Homo sapiens: one gene and its partner. The protein of the gene in region 1 purifies or fractionates together with the protein of each later gene. This does not show direct contact. Each region holds a gene or a part of one and is shown in the gene's direction. Other genes may lie near its edges.

What was found.
Region 2: the proteins of PLXNA2 (region 1) and TMEM74B fractionate together in Homo sapiens (co-fractionation; one large-scale study listed by BioGRID). This does not show direct contact.

The regions. Positions count from the first base shown.
Region 1 is NC_000001.11:208,216,885-208,220,689, reverse strand, and holds part of PLXNA2 (plexin-A2 precursor), read left to right. Parts: intron 1-2,687; 5' UTR 2,688-2,722; coding exon of another isoform or gene 2,723-2,767; coding exon 2,768-3,805. UniProt on the Homo sapiens protein: Coreceptor for SEMA3A and SEMA6A. Necessary for signaling by SEMA6A and class 3 semaphorins and subsequent remodeling of the cytoskeleton. Plays a role in axon guidance, invasive growth and cell migration.
Region 2 is NC_000020.11:1,182,145-1,186,402, reverse strand, and holds the start of TMEM74B (transmembrane protein 74B), read left to right. Parts: upstream 1-1,421; 5' UTR 1,422-2,101; exon of another isoform or gene 2,102-2,454; 5' UTR 2,455-2,601; coding exon 2,602-2,632; intron 2,633-4,258.

The DNA.
Region 1 (3,805 bases):
CAGGTGGATCACGAGGTCAGGAGATTGAGAGCAGTGTGACCAACATGGTGAAACCCTGTCTTTACTAAAAATACAAAAAAAAAAAAAAAATTAGGCGGGTGTGGTGGCACGTGCCTGTAGTCCCATCTACTGTGGAGGCTGAGGCAGCAGAATCGCTTGAACCAGGGAGGCGGAGGTCTCAATGAGCTGAGATCATACCACTGCACTCCAGCCTGGGCGACAGAGCAAGACTCTGTCTCAATAATAATAATAATAACAAAAACTAACATAAGTTAAGTGCTCACTGTGTGCCTGCAACCATGCTAAGAGGTTGGTCTCTATATTGTCTCATTTACTGTCATGACAACTTGAAAGGTACATACTGTAGTTATTCCCATTCTACCAGAAAGGGACATGAGACTTGACTTGCCTCAAATCCCAAATTTGTTCCCAGATTCTGTCTAACAACAACAAAAGCCACTCACTATTCAAACTGTGTCTTGGGAGGATACCAAGCAGGGAGGTGAGGTGGCTGATCTTAACCGCATACTAAGTCCTTCCATGTTATCTCTGCTACCAGAACCCCCTTCCTCCCCTCGCGGCTCCTCAAGGAGGAACCACTCTCCACCTGGAACCCAAGGAGATTTTCTTCCCAGCGACAGGGGCAGAGAATGGCCTCTTGCAATTCCCCATCCAGCTGGAGAATTTAAGGATTCTGTTATTTCCTTTCCACAGCTCCTCTTCAGGAATTCACGTCCTGCTACCGGCCTCAGGACATAGCTAAAAATAACCTCTGGTTTCCAAACTGAAAGCCCTGTCTGTTGGGAGGCTTTGCCGGTGTGCGCCTGGGGCCGGAAGGGCTGTGTCGGAGTAGCTGAGGTCAGCCTGAGTCTCATGCCGGTGTTGCCTTCCTCTTTCCAAGGAAGCCCAGGGCCTCATGAGTCACCCCGAACACCCTGGGGGAGTCGGGTTGGAGGAGGGAGTTAGGTGGGACCTACTGTGGCACCACGGTGGCTGCCAGGCCGAGGATGCAGAACTGAACAAGAGGAAGGGTCGTTCCTAAAGAAACTCTAGGGGATTCTCTAAGTGGTGTCTGTTCTAATTATAACCCAATCCAGCCAGAATGGGGAGTTGAGGGAGAAAGGCCTCTCCTAAGCTGCCTTGGAGCAAACTCTCCATCCTTCGGGTGTTTCCATCCCTGCCACCTTATGTGCCCAGAGTTCTGTCTGGACTTGCCTGAGAAGGTTGCTGGATGATCTTCCAGCTGAGAAAAGCTTTCTCTGCCGGACAGCTCGCTGCCTTCTCCTGGTGCCGCAGTCACTTCCCACTGTCCCTCTCCATAAGTCAGGACAGTACCATGATAGTGATGGAACAGGCCCTGCTCTCTGACCTCCAGGTCCTGCTCTCTGACCTCCAGGCTCTGCTCTCTGACTTCCTGCCCCTGGCCCAGACTGCCCCTGGCTACAGGCTGTCCTCAGGAGCCCCACCTTGCCCCTCTGGGCAGCTTCCTTGGAACAGGGAAGAATAAGCACCAAGGCTCTGGAAGTGGAGGAGCCTTAAAGCCTGGGAGTCAGGAGGCAGGGGGAAGAGTAAAGGAGTCAGGGCTAGAGACTGGGCTTCGAGCATGGCCCACTGAGGCCCGCTGGTGATTTCATGGATGCTGAAACAGTCAGGAGGCCCCAGCAGTGCCTGAAATGAGACTGAATCTCACCTCACCACCCTTTGCTGCTCCCCACATTCTCCCAAATCTGGTACCCCTGCCCCAGGTGGCTGAAGCTGGACTCAGCCAGCCAGTAACCCCTAGCAAGGAGACTGGTTCTCTGTGTGTCCTGGCTTCCCATGTGCTCTGCCTGCAGAGAGGCAGAGGTTGAAGCAATTTCCCGAGGACCTGGCTACCTGGCAGCAGCTGGGCGTCCACCTTGAGAAGGATGGGGGAATCTCAAGAGATCTGCCTGTCTCCCGAGGGCTTTTCCGGCTCCGGAATGGCACATGTGGGAATCCCAGTCTTGTTGGCTACAACATTTTTCCCTTTCCTAACAAGTTCTAACAGCTGTTCTAACAGCTAGTGATCAGGGGTTCTTCTTGCTGGAGAAGAAAGGGCTGAGGGCAGAGCAGGGCACTCTCACTCAGGGTGACCAGCTCCTTGCCTCTCTGTGGATAACAGAGCATGAGAAAGTGAAGAGATGCAGCGGAGTGAGGTGATGGAAGTCTAAAATAGGAAGGAATTTTGTGTGCAATATCAGACTCTGGGAGCAGTTGACCTGGAGAGCCTGGGGGAGGGCCTGCCTAACAAGCTTTCAAAAAACAGGAGCGACTTCCACTGGGCTGGGATAAGACGTGCCGGTAGGATAGGGAAGACTGGGTTTAGTCCTAATATCAAATTGACTGGCTGGGTGAACTTCAACAGCCTTTTAACCTCTCTGGGAGATGAAAACGATGGCTTAAGGGGCCAGAAATAGAGATGCTTTGTAAAATAAAATTTTAAAAAAAGCAAGTATTTTATAGCATAAAGGCTAGAGACCAAAATAGATAACAGGATTCCCTGAACATTCCTAAGAGGGAGAAAGTATGTTAAAAATAGAAAAACCAAAATGCAGAAGGAGGAGACTCACAGAGCTAAACCAGGATGGGGACCCTGGGTCAGGCCAGCCTCTTTGCTCCTCCCGGAAATTATTTTTGGTCTGACCACTCTGCCTTGTGTTTTGCAGAATCATGTGAGGGCCAACCGGGGAAGGTGGAGCAGATGAGCACACACAGGAGCCGTCTCCTCACCGCCGCCCCTCTCAGCATGGAACAGAGGCGGCCCTGGCCCCGGGCCCTGGAGGTGGACAGCCGCTCTGTGGTCCTGCTCTCAGTGGTCTGGGTGCTGCTGGCCCCCCCAGCAGCCGGCATGCCTCAGTTCAGCACCTTCCACTCTGAGAATCGTGACTGGACCTTCAACCACTTGACCGTCCACCAAGGGACGGGGGCCGTCTATGTGGGGGCCATCAACCGGGTCTATAAGCTGACAGGCAACCTGACCATCCAGGTGGCTCATAAGACAGGGCCAGAAGAGGACAACAAGTCTTGTTACCCGCCCCTCATCGTGCAGCCCTGCAGCGAAGTGCTCACCCTCACCAACAATGTCAACAAGCTGCTCATCATTGACTACTCTGAGAACCGCCTGCTGGCCTGTGGGAGCCTCTACCAGGGGGTCTGCAAGCTGCTGCGGCTGGATGACCTCTTCATCCTGGTGGAGCCATCCCACAAGAAGGAGCACTACCTGTCCAGTGTCAACAAGACGGGCACCATGTACGGGGTGATTGTGCGCTCTGAGGGTGAGGATGGCAAGCTCTTCATCGGCACGGCTGTGGATGGGAAGCAGGATTACTTCCCGACCCTGTCCAGCCGGAAGCTGCCCCGAGACCCTGAGTCCTCAGCCATGCTCGACTATGAGCTACACAGCGATTTTGTCTCCTCTCTCATCAAGATCCCTTCAGACACCCTGGCCCTGGTCTCCCACTTTGACATCTTCTACATCTACGGCTTTGCTAGTGGGGGCTTTGTCTACTTTCTCACTGTCCAGCCCGAGACCCCTGAGGGTGTGGCCATCAACTCCGCTGGAGACCTCTTCTACACCTCACGCATCGTGCGGCTCTGCAAGGATGACCCCAAGTTCCACTCATACGTGTCCCTGCCCTTCGGCTGCACCCGGGCCGGGGTGGAATACCGCCTCCTGCAGGCTGCTTACCTGGCCAAGCCTGGGGACTCACTGGCCCAGGCCTTCAATATCACCAGCCAGGACGATGTACTCTTTGCCATCTTCTCCAAAGGGCAGAAGCAGTAT
Region 2 (4,258 bases), on another chromosome or scaffold:
GAGGAAACGTCTCCATGAATTTGGTACTCTAGGCACTTCGCTGGACTCATCTTAACTCCGGCCCTGTAAAGGAAAGAAGTGAAAGTCACCCCTTTTCACAGCCTGTTCACCCACACCCACCTAGGTCTTCTAGGTGATCAGACATGGGTCCTGCTCTCCAGGAGCTGCCAATCCGATGGAGGAGGCTGACCCTTAAACAAAATCACGACCGTCAGAGACAAGAGCAAACAGTGCGGGCAAAAGGAGAGCCCAGATGGAGGGGCCCGTGGGGTAAGTGGGTGTGTGCCCAGGGAGGGGTTCCAGGAGAAGAGGCCCCACAGCTGGGCCTTGGAGGGTGAGGGTGTGTTTGGCCATTGGCAATGCCCCCAGGAGAACACCCCTCTTGGGCGGAGCACTCCACTGTCCCACGGAGAAAAAAATTGCAGAGAAAAGGGGGAGGGGGATCGTCGGATTCTTTCTTGCAGCCTTCAGGTGGCGCCCTTGAGCCACGGAGCCGCAAGCGCCCGAGGAGACCGTCCCGACCTAAGGACCTCGGAGAGGACCCGGGGTCCTACCTGGGGGCTGCGTGCGGGGTGGGGGTGGGGGGAAGGGGAAGTGGCAGAGTGGGGGTGAGGAGTGGGGAGGCACCTGCGCTTGGCGCAATAGGGGCTCTCCGGTGGTGGGGAGGGATCTTCTTCAGCAGCCCCCGCCCGCCCCGCCCCTGCGCCCGTGGACCGCGGGCTCCAAGCCCCAGTTCCCTAAGCCCAGGCGCCGGCGATCCAGATCTGCCTGGAGGGGAGGGGAGGACGGTGGATCGGAGCCCCCGCACCCTCGCCCCAGCCCATCACCCGCCTTCCTGTCCCTCTCCTTGCTAACTCTCCGGGCGCCCTCGCCGGCCGCGGGCGGAGCTCCCTCCGCGGCGCTCGGCGAGCCCCGGCCCCCGCCCCTTCTCCCGTCCCTCCGTCCCCGGATCCCCCCCCCGCCTCCCCAGCGGCCGCCACCGCCGCCGTACAGCTCCGCGCGGCGCGAGTAGGTACGTGCGCCTCGGCAGTGGCTCCGGGCCGGGCCGGGAAGGGGGCGGGAGACCGGGAGGGCGAGGCGGTGGCGGCCGGGCCCGCGCCCTCCGGGCTGCGCCGCAGGAGAGAGACCCCCGCAGGCGAGACCCCCGCAGGCGTACGCCGGCTGCAGGAAGGCGGACGGGCACCGGAGAGGACGCACCCTCGCCCGCCGGCGGCCGGGCGCCCTTCGCCCCAGCGTGGTGAGGCGGGGAGGGAGGCCCGGCACAGGTACGCACGCGGAGAGGGGACCGCTGGGGGCGGCAGGAGGCCGAGGGCCGGGGGCGGGGAGTGGCGGCGAAGGACGGCGAGCCTGACCTCGCGGCCCGCCGAAGGACATGCGACCAGGGGACCCGGCCTCCCCGGGCCTCCGCCTGGTCCGGTTCGGCCTTCCGGGTCCCGCGTCTGTGGGCAAGGGCAGGAGCAGGGGGTGTGGACTGGGCCGGCGGGAGCGGGCGCGGTGGGCAGCCGGCGTGCTGGGGCTTTCTGCGCGCAACTTTGGGTACAACAGCGTGGACCTGCGTGTGCGTATCTGCGCGCCCCAAGGCTTTGTGTACAACTCGTGCGTGTGTCTATCGACTGGGTTTTGTGAAGCTTCACCCACAGCCGCTGTGCGTCCCTCTCTCCGGGTGTCAGTGCGCGCGGCGGGTGGGGTATTGGGCCCCTGCGGGTCTTGGTGGATCTGGCTTGGGTCTCACTCCCAGGGGCACTTTGTGTGTGTGTGTGTGTGTGTGTGTGTGTGTGTGTACGCGCGTGTGCGTGTGACGGGGTACTCGCGTGGCCCGAAGATCCGAGGGTCACACTACGTGACTTCTGGGTGTCTGTGGGTACTGCTGTGGGAACAGCTGCTGGGGGAGTGTGTGTGGAACTGGAGTGTTCCTTTCAGGACCTGTCTGACTGCAGATGAAATTAGTAACTGGTGGGGTCGTGGGGTGTGAATGGTGGGCGGGAGCAGCTATGTCAGTTGGTGTGTTTCTGCTTATGTTAGGGTAATTGGGCACGGCCTTTGTGTAACTGGTGAATATCTCTGAACCTGGGCATGAAACAGAGAGATGTCCTAACTCTGGGTGAGAGGAATCCTCATTTTTCTCTGCCCTCTCACTGTGGCATCCTAAGAAAAAAGTTTTGGGTTCCTGCAGCATGAAGGAGAGCTCTGCTCCCAGAATTTGGGAGCTCCAGATTTCTTCCAGGGTGTGGAGGCATCAATATATCAGTCTGGGAAAGGGGTTCCTGGGCCACTCCAGGAGCTGAGTTGGGTGGAAGGTGCTGAGGGTGTGGGTGGGGGCCACTTCTGAGCACCCATGTGGCACCCACTGCTGGTCCCTGTTTGTGGCTGGGCACTCAGGAAAATGTTTTTGGTGCTAAGAGTAAAAAGCCAACCAACAAACACATCTCTTTTTTCTGTCTATTCACTGGAAAGTAAAAGCAGTCTGGGCGCAGGCTGGGGACCCAGATGGAATTCAAACTTATGCCTGCTCTCAAGGTGCTCACGGTTGCTGATAAACAGCTGGATAAAATGAAGAGTCTATGAGTGAGGGATGCAGAGCCAGGGAAGGCTGGTGGAGTGATGCCACCAGCACAGGGGTATGAGTTTGCAGGTTTGTACATGATAATAATTCTTAGGGAATCTGCATTCAACTCCTGTCCTCCACCCTCCCATACATGCCATGGGATCTTGGCCATGTTTTATGAAATAGAGACAGTAATTCCGGATCGTGGGGCTGGTGAGGGTGATATGAGATACTCCTGCATGAAGTGTCGGGTACATGGCTCAACAGCTAGTAGGTGCTTGGTAAACATTTACTAAATTGAGACTCTGGAAAGAGAGACGTAGTGATAGAAATGGGCTGTAAAGGGAAAAGAGCTTTGTACTCACATGAAAGGCCCTATATGTGCTAAGAGGAGGTGTCTGATGCTAGTCCATATTGACAAGAAGGTCAGAAAGATTGAAAAACATGTCTTCCTGCACTGAGGCTCTTTGAGTTTCATTCATTCATTCATTCCATTCATCCTCACTTCATTTGCTCATATTTACACACACACACACACACAAACACACACACACACACACACACACAGAGAACGAACCACAGTGCACTGGAGAATAAACTCCGGCATGAGAATGCAGAGAATCGTGTGTGTGTGCATGTATGTGTGCGTAGACACACCGGAGCATGTGAGCCACTCTGCACCTGGTGGTCTCTGTAGCCCATGGCTTGTGCGCCTAGGGCTCTGAGTGTATGTGCCCTCAGGCCATCAGTGTATACAAGGAATGATGCAGTTCTGCTGTGGATTAGGAATGACACATGCCAGGCAGGGAAGGGGGCTGAGGTGGGACCTGTCGGGGAGAGGCTAGATCTGCCTAAGAGCCCCGATTGCCAACTCCAGGCGAGTGTTACAAGGGAACGGGGGCCTAAGGTGGCCAGATTCTTTCATTTTGCAGGAGAAGCCAGGAATCCAACATTTAAAATGTAAAATCTAAAATCTTTTGCTTTTTATACATTTGCAACTAATTCACCAAAAACAAATGAACAGGCCAGGAACAAAACAAAGCAAAACTTCTATCAGCCAAATATGGTCCCCGGGCTGTAAGTCAGTATCCTTCAGCGGGAATGCACATGTGCTGTCTGTGTCTGGGTGGGTTTGTGTTCAGGTTCTTGGGTGGGGTAACTCCTCTTGCAGCACAGAGAGTGTCCCTCTTCTCGCCTCTCCCTCCCGGTTCCCCTCCTGTGGTTCTAGTCCAGGTCCCCACACTTCTGTTTACATAAAGGCATTTGGCTTTGACCTAGTCATGGCTCTCCAGTCTGCCCCTTCCTCTTGGCCCTTTTAGCCATGCCATCCCCAACCTGCTGGCTTCCTTGCTGGACCCCCATCCTCCACTTTGCCCCCTCCCATCTCATCAGTCCTCCTTTCTTCTGAAGCCGAGGCACTTCCTGCTCCAGCTCCTCAGCTCTGCATGGCTCTCGGGCTCCTTGGCCTGGCTTTCAGAGTCCTCTGTGAGCCGGCCCCAGCTGGCCTCTGAGGCAGTCTGTTCCCCTTTCCAGAATGCCCTCATCACCTTCCATTGCTGGGAAGTATCCAATTCATCTTCTGAGATCTGGCTCAAATGCCACCAACTCCCAGAAACTTCCCTTCCTCTTTGTTCCCACAACAACTTCTGCATTTCTACCCCCTCCCCCACCCCTCCGTCATCCTTCCCTCATACAACAAGGTCCATGGATTGC